2 separate regions of the Homo sapiens genome follow, and region 1 is linked to region 2. The links come from fine-mapping of genetic effects on gene expression. Tissue or cell type: tibial nerve. Region 2 holds a variant in brackets; the other region holds the start of a gene. All regions are shown on one strand. Distances are from middle to middle.

What was found. PIP is the estimated chance that this variant, and not a neighbour inherited with it, causes the effect.
Region 1: it holds the start of NBN, and the variant in region 2 is fine-mapped to the expression of NBN in tibial nerve (GTEx, PIP above 0.99).

The regions. Positions count from the first base shown.
Region 1 is chr8:89,982,042-89,989,665 of GRCh38, reverse strand. It overlaps NBN (nibrin), which reads left to right and starts at 4,999. Exons shown (of 16, transcript NM_002485.5): 1 at 4,999-5,141; 2 at 6,811-6,944. The coding sequence starts at 5,105. RefSeq lists enhancers at 4,639-5,435, 5,567-5,906 and a silencer at 5,247-5,446.
Region 2 is chr8:89,818,483-89,829,547 of GRCh38, reverse strand. It overlaps the pseudogene COX6B1P6. Among named protein-coding and RNA genes, the nearest start is that of RIPK2, 66 kb to the right of the region's middle. RefSeq lists an enhancer at 3,163-3,292. The variant T/C (reference allele first, on the strand shown) is at 4,647.

The DNA.
Region 1 (7,624 bases), 160 kb before region 2:
GAATGAGTTTTCAGTGTAGTTGAGAGTGATGGCAAGAGTTGGGATGGAGCAAAATCTCTCACATATGTGACAGTGTCCTTAGTGAATATGGGCAAGTGACATGGTCATACCTGCAGTAGGTAATAGAAAAAGAAGGTCTAGAGGGTGGATAGTTACACGAAATGATCCTGACCAAGGAGAGGTTTTGCAAAGTAGGGAAGAGTAATACACTAAAATGGAAAGTAAAGTTTAGGGGGAAGTAGTAACCCTAGTGGCCCACAGCTGTACTGGATATGAGTGGGAGAGGCATTGGAGCAAACTAGCCTAGAACCTGTCATGGGAAGCTGTGGTCTAGGGTGACAGCAAAGTTTCATTTAAGGCAAGATGTAAAGGGAAGACTCTGTCAAGACCCTAAAGATTTAGAAGAGTTTGTTTATACCATGACAGAGGTGAGAGGAGATGCCAGCAAGGTACAAGAAGCAGGGAGCATGGAGCAATAAGCAGACCAATTTGCTACCAAAAGCAAACCCTATTTGCATCATGCTCCTCTTCAATTTTTTTCTGGGCTCTGATTATTAGACCTGTGTTGTTACCAAGCAACAGATAGAAATTGTGGGATCTGTTTTCCTTCATCACTCTGCCACTACCATCTTTCATCCTGGCAATCAGACAATAAGTTGGGCTAAGTTATAGTATTTCCCAGCAGGGAAGAACTGGGCCTGATAAAGGAAGGAGGTGGCTTTACCCAGAAGGAGCTGTAGAACCCTGCCAACATGAAGCAGCTGGAACAAGACAGTACTGATGGGACTGCCTTCTGAGGATGCTGAACAAAAGGAGAGTGGAAAGTAAATTTGTATGAGAGAGTTTATTGATTTGAGAGCAGTCTCCAGGGAGAGAGGATCGAACATTCCAGCAAGGACTCTGGGAAACATTGCTATCATGCTTCTATGACGGCTTTTAGAAGTTTGTGGAAAAGTGGTGGCCCACGCTAAGAGAAGTAAAAATGCCACAGCTGCCATGGCAGATGGTAGAAGTAGGGATCAAACTGCTCAGGGAAATGGGTATGCTACAGTGGCCATATTATGTAGGGCTGGAAACCCCCCAGATGTCAAAATTCCAGTTCAGATGTGCCATTTATTAAAGAGACATGGAATTCTCTGGTGAGAAGGGTACCAGCATCACTGAGAAGCTCAGTGGTAGGTCTCCTCTGTAGGTCATGGTTGATGATAAAAGATGCTGTTATGGAATTGAGTTCCCAGATAGGACTGGGGATAATAGAATCCTGAAATGATAGAGGCCAGCTGGTGGTACTTAACCATCCGAATGGTATAATTATCTTGAGTGGCAAGATTGAAGTGGCAGCAGAGCTCTCGACCCAGAGTGAGCTTAAAAGATGCTTAATAGAATAAGGCACCCCTGTGGGGAAAGACAGTTAACCAAGAGTAAACTCAATCTGTTCAGTGAACAGGTATCAAGAATGGAAGACACAAGGCTCAGAGCAGCAGCCTCAACAAAAAGTCACAGTCTCTTTCCGAATTTCCTGATTTGAGCCACTTTGCCAATCCAGAACCCATTGACTGGTGGAGAGGCAGGACTGCCAGTAAGAAGGACCCTGCAATCCCATAGCAAGAATATATGGTAATGACCTCCCCGCACCCCACCCTACTCTCAGTCTTTCCCTTAAGGGACCTATAGCCATTCGCTTGGAAAATCATACACTGAGGAAAAGAGAATGCCCAAATACTTGGAGGGCTGTGGGACATGATCATTATTGATACCCATGAACCCAAAATATTATGACTCCTGGTTAAAGCAGAGGTATTCAGAAGCCAGAGAGTTAAGGGAGTCCTTGTCCAGGTCTGGCATACAGTGGGTCCACCGAACACATAGACTTACGTGGTGGTCATTTTCCTAGTTCCCAAATATATAATTGAAATGAACATCCTTGGTAGTTCTTACAATACCCACCTCAGCTCCTTGGCCTGTAGGGTAAGAACTATCAACGCGGGCAAGGCCAACAGGGAGCAGCCTCAAATTGTACAGCCATGACAGTGAGCAAGAACAATATAGGGGAATGATAGATATTAGTGCTTTCTTTTTGGCTCCCTTTTTATCTCCATTTAATTCATCATACTTGACCTACAAAAGCCTAACAGTTCCTGGAGAATAAACAGCCGACTACTGCAATCAACAAAGTAATAACCCCAATTAGAGCTGCTGTACCAGATGTGAAATCTTTACAAGAGCAGAACAACATGACCTCAGGCAACAGGTTTGGGGTGATTGATATGATGACATGTGCTTCCCCAACCTTAACAGAAAGTAGAATCCAAAAGTGCTCATATTTAATTAGAAAAAATAATAGAAAATACTTGCAATGTTGACCCAGAGCTAAGCTGTATCTCCTTAACCTCTATCATAATGTATTCCCAAGAGACCTGAAGTGTCTGGACATGCTGCAGAACATCCACTGTTCTACTACAGTGATGGTATTATGCTCACCAGATTGGATGAGTAAGGATTTGGCAAACAGGTTGGAGGCCTTGGTGAGATATGTATACTTCAGAATGTGGAAGAAAATTCCTGCAAAATGTTGATGCTTCACTAAATCAGTGAAATTTAGGGATTCTATGATGCAGGGCATACTTTTGTGTGTCCTACTTAAGAAAGATCTGCCTACTTTGAAATCATGTTTTCTTCCACTAATATTTATTATTTTACTTTCCTATGTAAATAATGATTCATCTGGAATTTAGATGAATTCTAATTCATCTAAATGAATTAGGGGGATCAGTCTTCATTTCCTGTGTTATGTTAACACATTTCTTGTGTCACGTTAATAAACGGGATCATTTATTTGTGGGGTGGGGTGGGGTCACATGAGACTTTCCTTTGTTGCCCTGTAATCACCTTCGAAAAATCAAATTACCTTATGTGTCCACTTTTTTTAGGTCCCTCTATTCTGACTCATTTGCCTGTTTTCTATCCTTGTACCAAGCAAACACTGACTTAATAACTGTAACTTTATAATAGATCTTAGTATTTCATAATTTAAATATTCCAGCTTTGTTCTTCAAAATTGCCTTGGCTATTCTAGGCATTTGCATTTCCATATAAATGTTAGAATCTGCTCATCCATTTCTACTCAAAAAAAGCATTTGAGATTGCTGAAGTTACATTGAATCTATAGAACAATTTTGGGGGAAATGACATCTTAACAATCTGTGAACATGATCCATTATCCTTGCATTTATTTAGGACTTTTTAAACTTTCTGTCAATAATGTTATGTAGTCAATCATGTTTTGTATTACATAGTTTGATCGATGTATTACCAAGCACTCGATTATTTTGGTGCCATTATAATTAAACATGTAATTTTCTATTTATTTTCTGGAATAAAGGTATACAATTAAATTTTGTATCTAGATATTGTATCTATAACCTTATTAAATTCATTTATTAATTAAAATAGTTTGCCAACAGTTTTTTTGATTTTCAATATAGGCAATCGTGTAATTTGTGAATAATGACTGTTATTTCTTCCTTTCCAATCTGAATGTCTTTTGTTACTCTTTCTCCTTTATTGCATTGGCTAGAGCATCTAAAGCCATGCTGAAAATAAGTGGTAAGAGCGTGTACATCCTTGTTTCATTACTGATGTCATGGGGAAATGTTCAATAATTTACCTTAAGTATAACGTAAACTGTAGTTTTTTTTGTAAATGTCCTTTATCAGATCATGGATGTTTTCTCTATTCCTACTTTGCAGAGAGGTTTTTATCCTAAATGGGTGCTTAATTTTATCAATTTCTTTGCTACTATCAAGATAATCATGATTTTTCTCCTATTTAAAATTATTATGATGAATTACATTTATTTTTTCCCCCAATGTTAACCCACCCTTTTGTTTCTGGATAAATCTCACTTAGTTATGATTATTCTTTTTATACTACTACTTGATTCAATTTGCTAATATTGTGCTTAGGAGTTTGCATCTATGATGATAAGAGATTGGTAAACCAGCCTTTTTTTTTTTTTTTTTTTGAGACAGGGTCTTGCTCTATCGCCCAGGCTAGAGTGCAGTGGCATGATCATGGCTCACTGCAGCATCGAACTCCTGGGCTCAAGTGATCCTTCTGCCTCAGCCTCCTGAGTAGCTGGGAATACAGGAGCATGGCACCAAGCCCTGCTAACTTTAAAATTTTTTATAAAGACAGGGTCTTGCCATGTTGCCCATGCTGATCTTGAACTCCTGGCCTCAAGTGATCCTCCCATCTTGGCCTCCCAGACTGCTGGGATTAAAGGAGCGAGCCATGGTGCTGGGCCTAAACAAGCCTTTTTAAAGTGACTTTTCCCCCCTATTACAGAATGCTTTTGAAAGCCAAAATGTATGTGATCAGGAGTGTGCTCTCAGATGTTTATTTAGTAGTGCGCAGGATGTAGACTACATTATGTGGGACGTGGGTGGTGATGGGTTGGGAAGCTACTGGAATTAGGAGGAGAGCTTGAACCAGCTTGAGACAGGTGGAAGTGGAAAGGAAGGGTATTAAATACAGGAGACTGCCCAGTATTTAGCATGTGATTAGCTGAAAGTGTGGCATTATGAAATAAAGACGTTAAGACAAGTTGATTTGAACTTAGAAAAGAGTAAAAATAATGAGTTTACTTCGAGGTGAAATCCTTATCTTCATCATTATTATCACCATTACTAGATTCCAAAGGAATACCTGCAATTTAAGAAACTGCAAACGCACGAAACTACATAACTGGTAAGTATTTTAATGCATTTAATTAAAAATTTTCCTTATGTTGCTTTGGAGTTAGTTTTTAAAATTCTTTTCGTTCATAATCAGGAAAGGTAGTAACCTTACATTCAGCGACACCTTAGAAACATACCCTTTTAACGCAGCACATTTCAATACAGATTGTGCTGTTCCTTTTCCAACCACCAGGTGGCGGGCAAGCGCCCAAGTCGCACTCCCGCCTCATCCAAGGCAGCCTGCGTGGCTCCCGGGAGCGCGCACGTCCCGGAGCCCATGCCGACCGCAGGCGCCGTATCCGCGCTCGTCTAGCAGCCCCGGTTACGCGGTTGCACGTCGGCCCCAGCCCTGAGGAGCCGGACCGATGTGGAAACTGCTGCCCGCCGCGGGCCCGGCAGGAGGTAAGGGCAGAAGGGAAGCCTCGGGGCCTATTTTCCCGGTAGCGACTGCCTCGGGGGAGGGCCTGCGGGTGATTCCTGCGTCGCGTCCGTTCCTGCCCGGGGACGCTGCGGAAGCGGTCGCAGAAGCGGCGAGTACGCTGTATGGCAAGCGCATATTCTTCCCGGGCAGCACGGCGGCTGTGAGCTGGAATTCAGCGCGGGCGGTGGGGTGATTGCGGCGCCCCCTGGTGGCAGTCCTCCGCGCCCCTCCCCTGACTCCCCCTCCCTCCCAGCCTCACCCCCGCGCCGTTGCAGCGCTAGGGCTGGATGGCCTGCGGGTAAGCGGCAGCAGGCGCCTAGTGGGAACCCCCGGCAGGAAGTTAGCATGGGCGGACCACACGGGGGCCACACATGACTTGTGAAGAACTACTGGACAGTTTGGGGAAATGACTACCACGAAAAGGCTTACTTTCAGTTTTGTTTCAGACTCCTTTTCCACAATGTCATCAGAACAATGGGAAAAGTCGATTTTTTCCCATTCATTTCCAGCGGTGTGAAATGTGATCACATGTTAATTGGTTGCCCGTGGTGGGTGTGAAGGGTCTTGTCCTCGGGAAGTTTACATGATGATTGGCAAAGATCTATGTAGAGACTAAATGGACTGGCAGGGTAAGAGAGTATGGAGAGCGCCAAACTAAATAAATTTTATACTGTGAAGACTCACAGGTCAAGGCGTCCCTGGAGACCTGGCTCTTCTGGACTCCCTACTCTTTATCTGCCCTAATCTCCCTGCCACTCGGGTAATGAAATTATGCTCCCAGACTCAACTCCGCATGTCTCCAATATATATACTGTTACTCCAACAACTTATGATTTACAGCAATTTTAAAAGAAACTGATAACCCTTTCCCACTGATTGGAGATGTTATCTTTAAGATAAAAACAAATTTTCAAAAAATGTACACGTGCATCTTAGTCTGGACTTTGTTGCATTGGTCTGTGTTGTTTACTCATGGTCCAGTACCATACTTTTAGTTTTATGGCATATTTTGCCATCTGGTAGGGCAAGCTCCTATTATATTATTCACATTTTTCTTGATTTTTTTTTTTTTTTGAGACGGAGTCTCACTCTGTCACCGAGGCTGGAGTGCAGTGGCACTGTGTCGGCTCACTGCAACCTCCATCCCCTGGGTTCAAGCAGTTCTCTTGCTTCAGCCTCCCAAGTAGCTGGGATTACAGGCTTGAGCATCTTTTTTTATAGTTTCCTGATATTTTTGTTTATCAAGTTCCAAACATAATATTGTGATTGTTGCTAGGTAATACATTAAGTTTTTAAGTTAATTTGAGGGAACATTGACTCCTTTCAGCATTGCTTTCCCTTTAGAAAAATGATGTAGCCTTCTATCTGTTTAGATAACCTTTTTTTCTTTTTCTCTTTTTTATTGTATTTTAAATTTTGTTGTTGTTACTCCTGAAACACCATAGTTAGATAACCTTTGATAGCCTTCAGTGAGGCTTTACTGAAAACACAAGTTTGACATATGTAAAGTTGACTAACATTTGAATAACAAAGGTGTTTTATTTAATATTTGTCATACCTATATCATATACACTTACATGTATGTGTGTGTTCGTGTACATGTGTATGTGTCTATCAACTTATCTTTTTTTAAAAAAAAATTTATCTCAGGAGAACCATACAGACTTTTGACTGGCGTTGAGTACGTTGTTGGAAGGAAAAACTGTGCCATTCTGATTGAAAATGATCAGTCGATCAGCCGAAATCATGCTGTGTTAACTGCTAACTTTTCTGTAACCAACCTGGTATGTTACTAATTTTATTTCACTAGTTTCCAGTAAGGGGGTTGAAATCACAAAATATTCTCTTGGTTTGTATGTGAGAGAGAGTTCACAGGATTTGTCATTTTATAGAGCTGTGTAGACTTTTTTAATGTTAACAAAATTAAATACTTATATTGTGGCAGTGGTACCAGTGGTATTTGTTCATTTTGAGATTTGAAGTTTCTATTTCAGTAATTTACTCTTTGTTTTAGTTAGAAACTCAGAGGAAGTAGGACATAGTTATTTTTATTTGCTTACTAAACATTTATTGTTTACTATTAGTTTGGTGCAAAAGTAATTGCTGTTTTTGCCATTAGCAGTAATGTGTTTTTATGTGTCAGTAACTGTGCCAACCCTGCGAATAGAACAATGAACAGACCTTCATGACTCTGGCTCTTAAAGAGGTTATGTAGCTGTGTGGAAACGGGCATTTCTCATATAATACAAGTTTTTGCAATGGGAATTGATTTGTTTTATTAGGGAAATGCTTACTTATGCCCCACAGCTCCTTTAAATGGCTTTCAGTTTGTTTTGATCATAACCTTGGGTGATAAAAGTGCTAAAAAAAATACATAGGAATATCTGTACTCATGATAACGCTGGTGGTAATAAGAAAGATGAGCCATTATTTTAATCAAAGATTGCATATATGCGATATGAAT
Region 2 (11,065 bases):
GGTGCCATTGCACTCCAGCCTGGGTGGCAAGAGTGAAACTCCATCTCAAAAAAAAAAAAAAAAAAGGAAAAAAAAACAACAACGAAAAACAGGGAGATGAGACTGAGATTGTCTAAGGCAGGGCGTTGGGGGAAGAGGGTTACTCTCATATGGTGATAATGAAAGGCTTCTGAAAGCATCTGAGCTAAGACCTAAATGATGAGGAATGAGCATTCCAGGTGGAGGGAGAAAATCCCCTGGGGAAGCCAAAGGTTTGTCCTACAAAACAGAAAAAATGCCAGAGGGAGTAAGTGCATGTGGCAGGAGGTGAGCTTGTCGAAATTTTTTGGGAACTGATCATATTGGACAGTGTGGGTCATGCTAAGAACCCACAATAGTTATTATGCTTGCAAGGGGAGCACACTTTGGAGGTTGTTGAATAGGAGAGTAAAATGATGTGATTTACTTTTTAAAAAGATGATCTGGCTGCTGTATGTCTTGTCCAAGATCAATCTCCACCCCATCTTGTGATAACATCCAGTGTCTAGCACATAGTGAGTGCCGAATGACTGAGCACAAATTATCCATTCCATTTCCAATATCTTCTGTATAATCTCTCCTTAACTGTCCTTTCCTTCCCACTTCTCTGACCACAGGAAAAATCCTTATTCATTAAGATTCAGCTAAAGCATTACTGTTCTGGGAAGCCTTTCTGATCTGCAGAGCTGAGTGAAATACCCGCCTCTATGCAGTTTTTGGACATTGTGCTCGCTTCTGTTATAATACTTAACATAATTATCGGTTAGGTTGTCTTCCCTCCCTATAGTGCTTAGCAAGGCCTATTTCTTATTCTTACTTAATCTTCAGTGACTATGTTAGATGATCTGCACATAGTCTGTTCACCTAAACTGCCCTTAACTGTTGATGTATTTGTTAATCACTTGGTATTACCCAACTTTGAAACTGACTCTAGAGAGGGTGACCTCTCTAGAAAACCTTTCTAATCTCAAGCCAGCTCTGTACTCCCTTCACAATATTGTAGCTTCACCCTAGATAATTCTTATTTTGCATTAAAATCTTGGCTTCCAGCTGGGCACAGTGGCTCATGACTGTAATCCCAGCACTTTGGGAGGCTGAGGTGGGTGGATCACGTGAGGCCAGGAGTTTGAGACCAGCCTGGCCAACATGGCAAGACCTTGTCTCTACTAAAAATACAAAAATTAGTGGGTGTGTTGGTGCACATCTATAATCCCAACTATTCGGGAGGGTGAGGCACAAGAATCACTTGAACCTGGAACAATGAGATTGCAGTGAGATGAGATTGTGCCACTGCACTTCAGCCTGAGCAACAGAATGAGAGCAACTCATTTCATCCAAAGTGGACATAAACCTGTTTTTATTATTAGGCATAAATTATTTGGGGACAGAATTACATCTAACTTATTTCTGAAATCCTGGTCTCTACTACCGTGTCTGGCACGTTGCAAACACAAAACAGGTGGTAATTATTATGAGTCTGAGATTCCCAAAGCCATGATCCACTGATGTTTTCCATTAAGACAAGTTACATCAGTAGAAACAATATTAAAATCCTCCCTTTATAGTATTTCCATTGAATAAATATTTTTAATCAAAATTTATTTTTATCTTTGCAATGATTCATAGAAATTAACCTTTCTATGTAAAAAACTAGATAGGGCAGAAATTTTAGTCATATATTAGAAAAAAGTAATCATCTTTTTGCAGTAGTTAAGAGCAATCTATCTTTTATTTAGTTGGTAAAAATGTTCAAATGTAAATGCATAGAGATAAATTTTCCTAGCTGTGGTAGATAACTCATCCCTCAGACTTGGAAGTGCAAGAAATGCCAAATAGACTGAAATGAAGATTAAGGTAAGTCTTTGGTTTTTATGCTTGTTTTCACACATGCTGGCAGCTATAATGGAAAATTAGGAATTCAGCCACATGAATGTCTGCTCTGTCTCCTTTTGTGTCTGGAAGAGAGGCAGCAGAATGGCCCTCTGGGTGTGGAAGAGGATCAGCTTCCCTATGCTGTTTTCCTTTTCCGTCATTTTGAAATCCATAAAGCATCAGCAGCAAGAACAACAACAGCAAAACACAAGTATAACCTGAAAGCATAGTGTATAGTCAGGGGAAGAAACGACTTTCAATCACAGTTATTTCATGAAGAAAAACTAATGTTTATATGACTATACTGTAATTAAGATTACAAACTCAAAAACTAATGGAGCTGGGTGCGGTGGCTCACGCTTGTAATCCCAGCACTTTGGGAGATCGAGGCTGGTGGATCACTTGAGGTCAGGAGTTGAAGACCAGCCTGGCCAACATAGTGAAACCCCATCTCTAAATTAGCCGGGCATGGTGGCATGCACCTGTAGCCCCGCCTACTCAGGAGGCTGAGGCAGGAGAATAGCTTGAGCCCAGGAGTTCAAGACCAGACTTGTCAACATGGTAAAAATCCCCTCTCTACCAAAAATACAAAAATTAGCTGGTCTCATAATCCAGTCAATAAATAAATAAATAAATAGATTTAAAAAAAACTAGCAAGAACTCAGTAAGGACAGATGTGACACTGCCTCCTGATTGTCCCATCAAAGGGGAAGGAAGGTGTGCGGAGGACCTGAGGGAGGAATGTGCTTCTTCAGACCCTATGTCCTGCTTGTTTCTGGTCAGTCTCTGGCCCAGGATCTTAGGTCTCTCATAGATTTAAGAAGCTTTAAGATGCACTTCCCTTAACTTAAATATGGGTAGAGATCTGTGAATATCCTCAGAAATATGAATATAGAACATGAGTGGGACAGGGGAGGAATTCTTGCCAATAACAGTTTCTGTAAGATACACATCAGATTTACTTACATTGAAAAGAAGAGCAGGGCCTGGTGTGAATCATTCCACTTGGATCACGCTTAAACTGCAGGGGAGGTGCCCTTCCCTTGAGCCCACATTAAAGAGCCTGGGAAATGGGTGTGAAGAATGAGAGGCTTTCGCTATTATCAGCTGGGTGCTGTGCAAACACAGCAACTGGTATTTCTATGTAAGTACACATGGAAAGAAAGGGAGAGAAATTTAGATGGCATATATAAGAGACATTTTTTTCTTTTTTCTTTTCTGTTTTTTTTTTGCTCATTACTCTTGAAAAATCAAAGACCACACAGAAACAAGCCAGTAGCACTGGAAATCCCCTTGTACTTGTCATTTTGTTTAGTCACTTATCAGGAGTCAGGGGAACAGTAGGCTGGAGGCAGACAGGACCAAGTACTTCCAGATTTAATGCAACCACTAGACAAGACAATCAAGAGGAAATGAAAAACTGGAGCCATTTCGTTTACTGGATAGCAGCTGACCTCACTCATCACTGGCAAGAAAAGGCATAGTGTCGCGGAAATGCCATAGTAGCTGGAGTCAGAAGACGTGAGATTGGCTGGCCATGGTAGCTCACACTTGGAATCCCAGCACTGTGGGTGGTTGAGGCCAGGAGTTCTAGGCTGTAGTCATCTATGATCACATCACTGCACCAAAAAAAAAAAAAAAAGGTCTGAGATTGAGCCTTGAGCTCTCCCACTCACTGGCATGTAGTCTTGGATAAATCCCTCTTACATCACTCTGAATGATCTGGTTTACCCATCTCAAAGATAAGGACAATTATACCATGAGCAGCAAAAATTTCATAGGGTTTGTTGTAGTAAATGAAATAAGATTAGCAAAGCTAATTTGTTATTATAATTTCAATAAAAAATAGACTCAAATGATTGTGGGAACTGCTCCATCTTTAATATTCACCATTTCAAACTAGAAAGATTTCCCCTAAATCTTCTTCCAAACATGTCCATACTCTAATCTTATTTCTTTTTGTAATTGGTTTGCTGAGCAGCGTTCTAATTGCCCATCATTTTTCTAGCCAGCTTTAGGGCAGCTGAGATGGCCAAACAGGGAACTGCAGTGTGTGACGGGGGGGATTTTAAGAACATTAGAGCAGAGCGTGTGTATGTGTATTTATTTTTCACAGCTTGTTTTGCTATGCTCATCAAGTGGCTCCTGTCTCTTTGTATTCGTCTACTGAGTATTTTTCCACATAAGTGATTTGCTGTGTAATTATCCTGGCCAACAACTACGTACAGTATGTCATGTTACTTAGCTGCTGCAAGCAAATCCTTTCCCACATCCTGGAAAAGGCTGACTCTTTAAAAAAAATCATTATGTGTATTTAAGATATGGAACATGATGTTATAAGATGCACATATACAGTAAAAAGGTCACTATAGTGGAACAAAGGAACATATCCATCGTCTCACACAGTTACTCCTTTATCCCCCTATGGCAAGAGTAGCTATAATCTACTCATTTAGAAAAAATCCTGAATATAACATTCTATTATTGACTATAGTCCTCACATTGTATATTAGATCTTTCCATTTGTTCATCGTATATATTTGCTAATTTGTATCCTTTGGCCTAATATCTTCCCAATTCCTATCCCACACTCCAACCCTGGTAATCACTGTTTTATTCTCTCTATGTCTGACTGCTTTAAAAAAATTCACAGAAAGCATTTGTGGAGGCTGAGCAAGATGGCTGAATAGAAGCCTCCACCAATAGTCTTCCCTGCAGGAACACCAACTTTAACAACTATCTACACAAAAAGCACC[T/C]TCATGACAAACAAGCAGGTGCATGATCATAGTACCTGGTTTTAACCTCACATTACCCAAAGAGGCACTGAATAGGATAAGAAAGACAGCCTTAAATTGCTGACAATGCTCTTCCAGCATTCCTCAGCAGCGGCCACATGGTACAAAGACAGCCTGTGCCCTTGGGGGTGGGAGAATGCAGCATCTGTGGACTTTGCATTGGAACTCGGTGCTACCTTGTCACAGTGAAAAGCAACACGGGACAGAACTCAGCCACCACCCATGGAGGGAGCATTTAGACCAGCCCTATCCAGAGCGGGTAGCCTATCCCAGTAGTCAGAACCTGTGTTCTGGCAAGCCTCGGCACTGTGGACTAAAGCGCTCTGGGTCCTAAATAAAGTTGAAAGGTAGTCTAAGCCGCAAGAACTGTGATTCCTGGGCAAGTCCTGGTGCTGTGCTGGGCGCAGAGTCAGTAGATTTGGCAGGCATATGACCTAGTGAGACACCAGCCCAGGTGGCCAAGGGAGTGTGTGTGTCACCCCTCCCCGCATACCAAGGCAGCACAGCTCACAGCCCCAGAAGAGAGTTCTTTCTTTTGCTTGGGGAGAGGAGAGGGAAGAGTAAAGAGGAGTTTGTCTTACAACTTGGATATCATAGGGGTAGTTTGCAAATATTTTCTCCTATTCTGTGGGTTGTCTCTTCACTTTGTTGACTGTATCCTTTGCTCAGCAAAAGCTTTTTAACTTTATATCACGTTAGTTCATTTTCTAACTCTTTGCCTTTCAAAAATTTCTCCAGGTATTTTCAATGAGCTTTTTCAAACACAACAACATTCTAAAAATGTTTCACACATCAGTAGTTTGAAGAAAATTTTCCCAAGACATGTAGGGCCATCTTTTCAATTTTAATCTTTTCCTGGCTATTAATGTACACAACTCATTTTCCCTGACCTTTTGCAAGTGTTACTTGTGTGAATAGTACCATTGACAAAAATGCTATTTCTTTCAAGAGTTTGATAATAAGATTTCTCTCTGCCCAGTAAATTAAAAAATCATGATAGTCTTTGCTGAGGGTCACACTGAGCTGAGAGGTATCTCAGGGGCATCTTTAGGAGTTAGCAACATAGCAGAATATATCGAGACCCATGTCAAGAACTACAGAACTGCCGCTTTTGACAGCTGCTTCCCCAACCAGAGCCAGTTCAGGAACTGCTGGCAGAACTACCCAGATTTCTACCACTGTGGAAAGGTAATGATGTCTGAAGAGAGTGATGTCTCTGGGTGCAAATGGTAGTGGGAATGTGTACAAATCCCCCAGCATCATATTCTGGGTCTTAACCTGGGGTGACCACGGGGCAGAAGCCACAATTCCTGGAAAGATGAGAATGAGTTCTGCCCCACTTTTCCTCGGTCCTAAGTCCTTCTCCCAGGGTGATAAAGGGGGACTTGGGTACATGGAGCTCATCGTGGGACCCTGAATCATGACTTAAGTGATAATAAAAGCTTACTGGAAGAGTGGGGAAAAAGTCATGACATGAAGGATTAGAGGAGAGATTTGCAGTTGTCTTAAAGAAATAGTCTACTCCCCTCCTGAGGTAGAGTTCAGCTTCGTCCACTTTTCTGCTGTGTGCACTATGGCAAATGCAGCAAGACATAGAGATATGGATGTGCCTCAACGCATCCAGTAAGTTGAGAGAAAACCTCAAGTTGCAAATGGATATGAACAGTGTAGTACCATTTATGAAATGACATAATTATGTATGGATATATTCATATGTAGTCAGATTTGTAAAAAGTACTTGGAAATGATTCATATTTACCTTAGGATAGTTGTTTAAACTGAGGAGAAAAAAGGTGGTGATGATGAGAGAAAGATAAGGAGATGAAGCTTTCCTTCTATTTATAGTGTTTTATTTCTTAAAATCTGAAAGAGGCTGGCATAGTGGTGCACATCTGTAATCCCAGCACTTAGGGAGGCTGAGGCAGGGGGATTGCTTGAGGCCAGAAGTTCAAGGCTGCAGTGTGCTATGATCATGCCATGGCACTCCAGCCTTGGTGCCAAAGCGAGACCCTGTCTCAAAAAAAAAAAAAAAAACTCTGGAAACAAATATGGTAAAATATTAACACCTTATGTGTGTGGTACATGAAATCCTTGTTATATTCTGTACATATGAAATAGTTTATAATTTGAAAAACAGCTAGTTTTCTAGGAAGTATTAACATACCTAAAGAATGAGCTAATTAAAATTGGTGGCAGAAGGTCAGAGAAGTTATCCTTGTAGTATCCATTCATGCATTTCTTGGGCAAATACTCAAGTCTAAAGCCCCATTTACAGTATTTCTGTTGGGAAGATGACTAGACGCCCCCTATCTATGTTCCTTTATTTACAATTTAGGCTTGAGCACAAATCTGACTACTAGAAGAGAAGGTATTCCCCAAGAAATTATGGAGGCCCAGCAGCAGTTCTATTACTTGCCCTTAAAAATGGCATTGCATTCTGATTTTATTAAAAAAGTTTATTATCAGCCTAGTGCCAAAATCTGTGTTTGAGTTTACAGAACTGAGGGTCAGAATGCCACTTTCTTTCTAATTTCCATATTGGATTTGGTGAAGATTTTCCAGCTCCTAAGGCCTGATTGTTCCTAGTAGACAGGTACATTATATTTGGTTGTTTTTGTTTTTGTTTTCTTCTTTTATCCCTAATCTGATCTCCTTGAGGGCAAGAATACTTCTTCTCTATTTTTTTCTCCTCCAAGAGTTCAATACACGTTTGGTGAAAAAATAGTGTTTCAATCTAGAAGAAATGGATAAGTTCCTGGACACATACCCCCTTCCCAAGACTAAACCAGGAAGAAGTTGAATCCCTGAATAGACCAATAACAGGCTCCGAAATTGAGGCAATCATTAATAGACTACCAACCAAAAAAAGTCCAGGACCAGACAGATTCACAGTCGAATTCTACCAGAGGTACAAGGAGGAGCTGGTACCATTCCTTCTGAAACGATTCCAATCAATAGAAAAAGAGGGAATCCTCCCTAACTCATTTTATGAGGCCAACATCATCCTGATACCAAAGCCTGACAGAGACACAACAAAAAAAGAGAATTTTAGACCAATATCCCTGATGAACATCAATGCAAAAATCCTCAATAAAATACTGGCAAACCAAATCCAGCAGCACATCAAAAAGCTTATCCACCATGTTCAAGTGGGCTTCAACCCTGGAATGCAAGGCTGGTTCGACATATGAAAATCAATAAACGTAATCCAGCATATAAACAGAACCAAAGACAAAAACCACATGATTATCTCAATAGATGCAGAAAAGGCCTTTGACAAAATTCAACAACGCTTCATGCTAAAAACTCTCAATAAATTAGGTATTGATGGGACGTATCTCCAAATAATAAGAGATCTTTATGACAAACCCACAGCCAATATCATACTGAATGGGCAAAAACTGGAAGCATTCCCTTTGAAAACTGGCACAAGACAGGGATGCCCTCTCTCACCACTCCTATTCAACATAATGTTGGAAGCTCTGGCTAGGGCAGTCAGGCAGGAGAAAGAAATAAAGGGTATCCAATTAGGAAAAGAGGAAGTCAAATTGTCCCTGTTTGCAGATGACATGATTGTATACTTAGAAAACCCCATTGTCTCAGCCCAAAATCTCCTTAAGCTGATAAGCAACTTCAGCAAAGTCTCAGGATACAAAATCAATGTGCAAAAATCACAAGCATTCTTGTACACCAATAACAGACAAACAGCCAAATCATGAGTGAACGCCCATTCATAATTGCTTCAAAGAGAATAAAATACCTAGGAATCCAACTTACAAGGGATGTGAAGGACCTCTTCAAAGAGAACTACAAACCACTGCTCAACAAAATAAAAGAGGACACAAACAAATGGAAGAAAATTCCATGCTCATGGATAGGAAGAATGAATATCATGAAAATAGTCATACTGCCCAAGGTAATTTATAGATTCAATGCCATCACCATCAAGCTACCAATGACTTTCTTCACAGAATTGGAAAAAACTACTTTAAAGTTCATATGGAACCAAAAAAGAGCCCACATTGCCAAGGCAATACTAAGCCGAAAGAACAAAGCTGGAGGCATCATGCTACCTGACTTCAAACTATACTACAAGGCTACAGTAACCAAAACAGCACGGTACTGGTACCAAAACAGAGATATAGACCAATGGAACAGAACAGAGCCCTCAGAAATAATGCCACACATCTACAACCATCTTATCTTTGACAAACCTGACAAAGAGAAGAAATGGGGAAAGGATTCCCTATTTAATAAATGGTGCTGGGAAAACTGGCTAGCCATATGTAGAAAGCTGAAACTGGATCCCTTCCTTACACCTCATACAAAAATTAATTCAAGATGGATTAAAGACTTAAATGTTAGACCTAAAACCATAAAAACCCTTGAAGACAACCTAGGCAATACCATTCAGGACATAGGCATGGGCAAGGACTTCATGTCTAAAACACCAAAAGCAATGGCAACAAAAGCCAAAATAGACAAATGGGATCTAATTAAACTAAACAGCTTCTGCACAGCAAAAGAAACTACCATCAGAGTGAACAGGCAACCTACAGAATGGGAGAAGATTTATGCAATCTACTCATCTGACAAAGGGCTAATATCCAGAATCTACAAAGAACTCAAACGAATTTACAAGAAAAAAACAACCCCATCAACAAGTGTATGAAGGATATGAACAGACATTTCTCAAAAGAAGACATTTATGCAGCCAACAAATGAAAAGATGCTCATCATCACTGGCCATCAGAGAAATGCAAATCAAAACCACAGTGAGATACCATCTCTCACCAGTTAGAATGGCGATCATTAAAATGTCAGGAAACAACAGGTGCTGGAGAGCATGTGGAGTAATAGGAACACTTTTACACTGTTGGTGGGACTGTAAACTAGTTCAACCATTGTGGAAGACAATGTGGCGATTCCTCAAGGATCTAGAACTAGAAATACCATTTGACCCAGCCATCCCATTACTGGGTATATACCCAAAGGACTATAAATCATGCTGCTATAAAGACACAGGCACATGTATGTTTATTGTGGTGCTATTCACACTAGCAAAGACTTGTAACCAACCCAAATGTCCATCAATGATAGACTGGATTAAGAAAATGTGGCACATATACACCATGGAATACTATGCAATCATAAAAAAGGATGAGTTCATGTCATTTGTAGGGACATGGATGAAGCTGGAAATCATCATTCTGAGCAAACTATCACAAGGACAGAAAACCAAACACCGCATGTTCTCACTCATAGGTGGGAATTGAACAATGAGAACACTTGGACACAGGAAGAGGAATATCACACACCAGGGCCTGATGTGGGGTGGGGGGAGGAGGGAGGGATAGCGTTAGGAGAGATACCTAATGTAAATCACGAGTTGATGGGTGCAGCACACCAACATGGCACATGTATACATATGTAACAAACTTGCACATTGTGCACATGTACCCTAGAACTTAAAGTATAATGATAAAAATATAAAATAACATAATAAAAAATAAATAAATAAAGTGTTTCAAAACTTTTTATTTAATTTGAGTTATCTGAGTTTCGGATGGTGCTAATTTGCATGGCCTAAACCCTTTAGTAACAAATAAAACAACCGCTATTATCAGAATGGTTTTAAGAAAGTATCTACCTTACCAAAGCAGCAAGCTAATAAGACATGGTATATTCATCACGCAATGATATAAATTATTTTTTAGTTTTAATTTTTAGAGACAGGGTCTCACTCTGTTGCCTAGGCGGGAATGCAGTGACACAGTCATAACTCCCTGTAACTTCCTTCCAACTGCTAAGCTCAAGTGATCCTCCCACCTTGGCCTCCTTACATGCTGGGATCCTAGGCTTGAGCCACCACACCTGGCCACAGTGATATAAATTTGACTTTGGACTTCCAAGTATCAATTCTTTTTTTTTTTTTTTTTTTTTTTGAGATGGCGTCTTGGTCTGTCAGGCTAGAGTGCAATGGCATGATCTCAGCTCACTGCAACCTCCGCCTCCCGGTTTCAAGCGATTCTCCTGCCTCAGCCTCCCTAGTAGCTGGGATTACAGGGGCATGCCACCATACCTGGCTAATTTTTGTATTTTTAGTAGAGATGGGGTTTCATCATGTTGGCCAGGCTGGTCTCGAACTCCTGACCTCAAGTATCGGCCCACCTTGGCTTCCCAAAGTGTTGGGATTATAGGCACGAGCCACCACACCCAGCCATTTTTGTATTTTTAGTAGAGACAGGGTTTCACCATGTTCGTCAGGCTTGTCTTGAACTCTTGGCCTTAGGTGATTCACCTGCCTCAGTCTCCCAAAGTGCTGGGATTACAGGCTCATGTGAGCCACTATGCCCAGCCTCAGGTATCAATTCTTAATG